Linked DNA regions of Homo sapiens. The protein of the gene in region 1 interacts with the protein of each later gene in a biochemical or structural test. Each region holds a gene or a part of one and is shown on either strand. Other genes may lie near its edges.

Region 1 (3,749 bases):
AGGCTTGGGGCTCTTGGCACCCACAGGTCCTGCTTGGGGATTGCTCCTGGGCCAGAGACCATCAAAGGACCATCAAAGCTCCAAGGTGGTCATGTGTTCATGGAGACTGTGATCCAGTGTCTTAGGCCGAGTTACTTGGGAAGCAAATCTTAAGGCCATGACTGGGTGTAAATTGTTTATCTGGGAGGTGATCCCAGGAAGCCCCAGGAGCAATGACCCACTGCGGGGTAAGTGTGGAACACATCCCAGAGTTGGAGAAGCTGAGGGTGAAGGAGCTGGGGTATTTATACACCCGCTGTCCGTGGTGTTGACTGGGGGCTGCCCCTGGAGTTATTACCTCTCTGGCACTTTCTGGCCTGCCATGTGTCCTGGCCAGTAGAAATCCATCAGCATGAAGAAAACAGTGAGTAATTGTGGTGACATGGATGGCCACTGACACTGGATGCTGCTGACAGCCAGAGAAGCCAGATTAACTGAATCTGGAAGAGGAGGGAGAGGTCCTGTGAGGGGCATAAAAAATGCCTCTGGAATGGCCATGCAGAGGATTGCAAGTCCTGGGCCTGAGTCCTTCTCTGAACCAGCCCCATGCTGGGGCTTGGAAACACCAAGGAGAGGCAGACACAGCCTCCAGTGTCAGCAAAGGTCTCAGCGAATGGGGAAGACATATGCATGAACAAAAAAAGTACAGCCAGGTGTAAGTGATACACAGCAGCTCTGAACAGGGAGCAATTACCTCTGCTAGGAGGGGTTTCTGAGAGAGCATCTGATTACCTTCTGCTTGGCTTCCTGAGGGATGAGTAGGAGTTTTCTAGGCAGGCAAGGGCAGGAGAAGGATCTTGAGCAAAGGCATAAAGAAAAAGCATGTCCGGCCGGGCCCGGTGGTTCACGCCTCTAATCCCAGCACTTTGTGAGGCCGAGGCAGGTGGATCACCTGAGGTCAGGAGTTTGAGACCAGCCTGGCCAATATGGTGAAACCCCGTCTCTACTAAAAATACCAAAATTAGCTGGGCGTGGTGGCAGGTGCCTGTAATCCCAGCTACTTGGAAGGCTGAGGCAGGAGAATCGCTTGAACCTGGGAGGTGGAAGTTGTAGTGAGCGGAGGTCGTGCCATTGCACTCCAATCTGGGTACCAAGAGCAATATTCTGTCTCAAGAACAAAGAAAAAGCCTGTCCTTAAGGACCTGTGGGTAGAACCACTAGTGACGCTCTTAAGAGCAGGACCATAGTTGATCCATTCTATGTCCCAAACGCTGGAAATAGGGCCAGGCACACAGCCAGGGTTGTGGGTGTGGCCATGAGGCTGCTGAGATGAAATGGGGAGCAGCTGAAGACAGACACCAGGCCCAGCCGCTGTCTTGATGACCTCAGAAATATCACTTGTCGAGGCCATGGGCCCCTCATCTATAAAATGGGTGTCATCCTGGTACTACCTTGCATAGTTGCTGTGCAGATCATGTGCCACACACATGCTTGGCCCAGAGCAGGCACTCACCATCCTTTTTCCTTACGCAGCCTCTGGATTATGAATACATCCAGCAATACAGCTTCATCGTCGAGGCCACAGACCCCACCATCGACCTCCGATACATGAGCCCTCCCGCGGGAAACAGAGCCCAGGTCATTATCAACATCACAGATGTGGACGAGCCCCCCATTTTCCAGCAGCCTTTCTACCACTTCCAGCTGAAGGAAAACCAGAAGAAGCCTCTGATTGGCACAGTGCTGGCCATGGACCCTGATGCGGCTAGGCATAGCATTGGGTAAGGGGGCGTGTGTCGATGAGAATGATAAGGACAATCCGGCCTGGATGTTCCTATGCCTGCTGGTCTGAGGCCAGGACTCAGAGAGGGGAACTGGCTTCTCCTAGCACTTACAGGGAAAGTGACAGAGGCAAGACCAGAAGCCCAAGCTCTTGCACTTGGCAGCCTGGCATCTTGACCTGCCTGGACTCCCCCACCTAGCATGGTCCTGGGCATCCAGAGCTACTTGTCCTCTGTCCGGCCTTGAAGGCTTATTCTCTGCACCACAGCTCTCACCAGTCCTATGTGGTAAGATCTGACAGTCAAGAAAGCAACCAATCAGACGACACACCAGAGGCCCCTTCACTAAAACTGTATTCTTGAATCTATCTTCCCCAAACCACAAAAGTAAGAAGTGTTCATTTTATACAGTGAAACAACACAGAGATCTACCAAGAAAACACTGATAACCCCCACTCTCAGATAACTCATGTTCGTGGCCTAACCTGGTCCTATTGCTCCTTTCTTTTCGTGACCACACAAACATGTGGATGCATTTATGGTGGGTTTGTTGTTGTCTGTTTGCTTTTGATGTTTGATTGTTTTAAAATTTTTTTGGATCATGCCATGCTGGTTTCATCGATATTTGCTCTTCTATCTTAACTAAATTTCTCTTTTACAATCTTTAGAAAAAAATGATATAGTTCCAACAGATACTTTTTAGAGCCATATAATATGCAATAGTAAGTATAAATTCAATTCAATCTTATTTTATTGTAGATGCATAGCTGATTTTGCCAGCACCATTTACTAAATATTATAATAATAAGTCATCGTTTTCCCACCTTCATTATATACTAAGTTTTCTGTATATACCTGTATCTACTTCTAATTCTCTGTCCTATCCATCATTCTATAGCAAAGCTATTCTGTTTTATTCTACTAGCTTGTATAAGTCCATTCTCCTATAAAGAAATAGTTAAGACTGGGTAATTTATAAAGAAAAGAGGTTTAACAGGAAGTATAGTGGCTTCTCCTTCTGGGGAGGCCTCAGAAAACTTACAGTCCTGGGGAAGCAGGCACGTCTTACACGGCCAGAACAGGAGTGGGAAGGGAGTTGTTACACACTTTTCAACAACCTGGTCTCATGATAACTCACTAGCTTGAGAACAGAACCTAGGGGATGGAGCTAACCCATTCATGAGAACTCTGTCCCATGGTCTATCCACCTCCCACCAGGGCCCACCTCCAACACTGGGGATTACATTTCAACATGAGATTCGGTGGGGACACAGATCCAAACCATATAGCTTTACACTAGATCTTAGATATACATAAAAGTCCTTCCCATGTTGCTTTTTTATTTGATATAATTTTTTGTCAACTCTCATTTTTTCTTTTGTGAAATTTAAAATTTTGTATCCAGGTTTTTTAAACATTAGAATTCTAGTGTTTATATATTAATTTTGGTATAGCTAATGTTTCAAGGGTATTAAGTCTTCTTATTAAGGACAAAATATGTTCTTCCATTTTGGCCTCATATCCTAAGTTTTGGGACTACTCTTCATTGCCATTCTTTTCTAAATAGCCTGTAATTATAATTTTTGTTTCTCCTTTGATCCAAGGGTTTATTTAAGAGATTGACTTGATTTCTTTATTTTCATTTATAAGTCATAGGGTGTTTTTTTTGTTTTGCTTTAGCTTGTTCTGTGATGTGATACAATTGTATTTGTGTCCACTTCTTCCTAGAATATCTAAGTTTTGACTTTATGTATTTAAATTTTTCTATTCAGTTAACAAAGGTTTGCAACTATTTTACCTTCATTATGGTTTGTAACTTTCATCCAAATGTAATTAGCCAATTTGTTCTGCTTAAATATTTTGCCTTTAATTCTGTTTCCTGATGTTACATTTGTTAGTCCTGTTTTCATGTTATTCATATACGCCTAATGCAAATTTTACAACCTTTACTTTTAATTTTTCCAGGTCATTTGGCATTAAGTTGTCTCT
Region 2 (3,749 bases), on another chromosome or scaffold:
TGGCTTTCCCAACTCTATTCTCCTGTGTCTCCGAGGATGGGGGGTTCAAAGCTCATCTGCCCCCACCTCTCCTGCAGTGAGCCCCACAGTAGCTCACACCCAAGCCTCACAGGAAGAACAGCAGTGGGTCCCCCACTGGCTGTGCGCCCCCAACCGGCTGTGCGCCTTGGCCTTTCCCGGGTCCAGAATCTGACAGCACTCACACCTCTGACTTCCACACTTGGGCTTCTAGCCAGTGTCCAGGCACAGGATGAGCAGGACTGAGGAGCGTGTCTGTGTCCTCTTCTGGTGCAGGTCAATAAGCATGCGTTTTCTGGAGGGAGAGACACCATCGAGGAGCACAGGCAGTTTGGGGGCAACTGTGATGTGGACGTGTCTTTCATGTACCTGACCTTCTTCCTCGAGGACGACGACAAGCTCGAGCAGATCAGGAAGGTGAGCAGGGAACCCCAAGGGCCCACAGCCGCCTTCTGCCACCCACTCCTGCCCATGGGGCCTGGAAGGCTCCAACAGCCAGGCATGAAGGCTTGGTCGGAGGTGCTCAACTGAAACAAGGTGAAAACTGAGTAGACTCGCCCTCATGGTTTTTAGGCCTGGGCTCAGAAGCCTCATGAACAAATCTCGAAAGAGCAGATACAAATCACTATTCATTTAGGAGCCACCCAAAACAGTCTTGCTTTATTAGTCATCAGAGAAATGTAAGTTAACGTGATCAAAGCTAAGACAGTTGAGTATAGAATTAGTAGGGGCTTTTGTGTTGCCATTGACTATTTTCAGTGATTATGAAGCAGATGCTTCAAGGCACACTCAAGTGAGCAGAGTGTTTATCAGCACAGCCTCAGGAAGCAGTTTGGTACTGGGTACAAAGAGCCCAAAAATGTTCAGAGCTTCTCCTCAGGTTTTCTCATTCTTAGATTTTTTCCAAGGAAATAATCCTGAGTAAGAGAAAGCTTTCCACACAAAGATGTTAAAAATGATAATAGCAAAAAGTTCAACACAGACTCAGTACAACAGAGGAAACGTTAAATTAGAATTGTTACAGGGTGGATTATTATGCGGGCATGAACTATTTTAAGTGTTCATATGCAGGGCATGGTGGCACACATCTGTAGCCCCTGCTACTTGGGAAGCTGAGACAGGAGGATCCCTTGAGCCCAGGAGTTCAAATCCAGCCTGGGCGACATAGCAAGACCCTCATTTCTTTCTTTTTTTTTTTTTTTTGAGACAGAGTCCTGCTCTGTCACCCAGGCTGGAGTGCAGTGGCGCAATCTCGGCTCACTGCAAGCTCTGCCTCCCGGGTTCACACCATTCTCCTGCCTCAGCCTCCCGAGTAGCTGGGACTACAGGCACCCGCCACCATGCCCGGCTAATTTTTTTGTATTTTTAGTAGAGACAGGGTTTTACCGTCTTATTCAAGATGGTCTCGACCTCCCGACCTCGTGATCCACCCGCCTTGGCCTCCCAAAGTGCTTGGATTACAGCTGTGACCACCGCGTCCAGCCAAGACCCTCATTTCTTTTAAAAAAAAAAAAGTTTTAGTGACACAGGAAAATATGCCTATGATAGTGAAAAAAGGATACCAAATGAAAACTCAGGGAGGAGTTAACTATGTTTAAATGAAATGCACAGGGAAAGAAATGTGAAGAAAATCTACCAAATGTTAGCGGGAGACCCACCTCTGGGCATTTTTCAGGTGGGCAATTTGTAGGTGATTTTTCTTTACTTTGCTGCTGCTTTGTGGTTTGGGTACTTTATTAAATTTGCTTAATGAGCATGCAGTACAATCAGAAAAAGAAAAAATTAGCAAGATTTGGCTGGGCGCAGTGGCTCACGCCTGTAATCCTAGCACTTTGGGAGGCCGAGGCAGGTGGGGGGAGTGGATCACGAGGTCAGGAGATCGAGACCAGCCTGGCCAATATGGTGAAATCCCATCTCTACTAAAAATACAAAAATTAGCCAGGCGTGGTGGCAGGCACCTGTAATCCCAGCTACTCAGGAGGCTGAGGCAGGAGAATCACTTGAACCTGGGAGGCGGAGGTTGCAGTGAGCTGAGATCATGCCACTGCACTCCAACCTGGCAACAGAGTGAGACTCCATCTCAAAAAAAAAAAAATTAGCAAGATTTTACAGAAGCCATAAGGCTGCCAGGAATTGTTGTTGTTTAGTGCCTGGGGGAATGGCCCCTAGCATCGGTAGGGGTGGGGACTGCCCTCCCCATTGGCCCTTTCACTGTGAGAGGCCAAGTCATGGCTATCGTCAGAGCCAGGTTTCTAGCCGTTTTAGGAAAAGTGTAGCTGAAGGTATAGGTTATTGTTGTGGTAACAACAGATCTCACTTCTGAGTGCCACCCACGTGCCAGGCTCTGCATGGGTGGTGTGGGCTGAGCTGGTGCCCGAGGCAGGAAGGAGCCACTCAGGACATGTGGAGCCATCTCTCACGTGGCTGTCTCCCTCCGGGCAGGATTACACCAGCGGAGCCATGCTCACCGGTGAGCTCAAGAAGGCACTCATAGAGGTTCTGCAGCCCTTGATCGCAGAGCACCAGGCCCGGCGCAAGGAGGTCACGGATGAGATAGTGAAAGAGTTCATGACTCCCCGGAAGCTGTCCTTCGACTTTCAGTAGCACTCGTTTTACATATGCTTATAAAAGAAGTGATGTATCAGTAATGTATCAATAATCCCAGCCCAGTCAAAGCACCGCCACCTGTAGGCTTCTGTCTCATGGTAATTACTGGGCCTGGCCTCTGTAAGCCTGTGTATGTTATCAATACTGTTTCTTCCTGTGAGTTCCATTATTTCTATCTCTTATGGGCAAAGCATTGTGGGTAATTGGTGCTGGCTAACATTGCATGGTCGGATAGAGAAGTCCAGCTGTGAGTCTCTCCCCAAAGCAGCCCCACAGTGGAGCCTTTGGCTGGAAGTCCATGGGCCACCCTGTTCTTGTCCATGGAGGACTCCGAGGGTTCCAAGTATACTCTTAAGACCCACTCTGTTTAAAAATATATATTCTATGTATGCGTATATGGAATTGAAATGTCATTATTGTAACCTAGAAAGTGCTTTGAAATATTGATGTGGGGAGGTTTATTGAGCACAAGATGTATTTCAGCCCATGCCCCCTCCCAAAAAGAAATTGATAAGTAAAAGCTTCGTTATACATTTGACTAAGAAATCACCCAGCTTTAAAGCTGCTTTTAACAATGAAGATTGAACAGAGTTCAGCAATTTTGATTAAATTAAGACTTGGGGGTGAAACTTTCCAGTTTACTGAACTCCAGACCATGCATGTAGTCCACTCCAGAAATCATGCTCGCTTCCCTTGGCACACCAGTGTTCTCCTGCCAAATGACCCTAGACCCTCTGTCCTGCAGAGTCAGGGTGGCTTTTCCCCTGACTGTGTCCGATGCCAAGGAGTCCTGGCCTCCGCAGATGCTTCATTTTGACCCTTGGCTGCAGTGGAAGTCAGCACAGAGCAGTGCCCTGGCTGTGTCCCTGGACGGGTGGACTTAGCTAGGGAGAAAGTCGAGGCAGCAGCCCTCGAGGCCCTCACAGATGTCTAGGCAGGCCTCATTTCATCACGCAGCATGTGCAGGCCTGGAAGAGCAAAGCCAAATCTCAGGGAAGTCCTTGGTTGATGTATCTGGGTCTCCTCTGGAGCACTCTGCCCTCCTGTCACCCAGTAGAGTAAATAAACTTCCTTGGCTCCTGCTCTTGTCATTGTGCTCTGTCTGGGAGGTCTGAGGAGGGAGC

The links.
Region 2: the proteins of CDH5 (region 1) and WARS1 form a complex in vitro, tested with the Homo sapiens proteins (one study listed by IntAct).

Annotation. Positions count from the first base shown.
Region 1 is NC_000016.10:66,390,624-66,394,372, forward strand, and holds part of CDH5 (cadherin-5 preproprotein), read left to right. Parts: intron 1-1,512; coding exon 1,513-1,760; intron 1,761-3,749. UniProt on the Homo sapiens protein: Cadherins are calcium-dependent cell adhesion proteins. They preferentially interact with themselves in a homophilic manner in connecting cells; cadherins may thus contribute to the sorting of heterogeneous cell types.
Region 2 is NC_000014.9:100,333,748-100,337,496, reverse strand, and holds the end of WARS1 (tryptophan--tRNA ligase, cytoplasmic), read left to right. Parts: intron 1-294; coding exon 295-435; intron 436-2,460; coding exon 2,461-2,622; 3' UTR 2,623-3,707; downstream 3,708-3,749. UniProt on the Homo sapiens protein: Catalyzes the attachment of tryptophan to tRNA(Trp) in a two-step reaction: tryptophan is first activated by ATP to form Trp-AMP and then transferred to the acceptor end of the tRNA(Trp).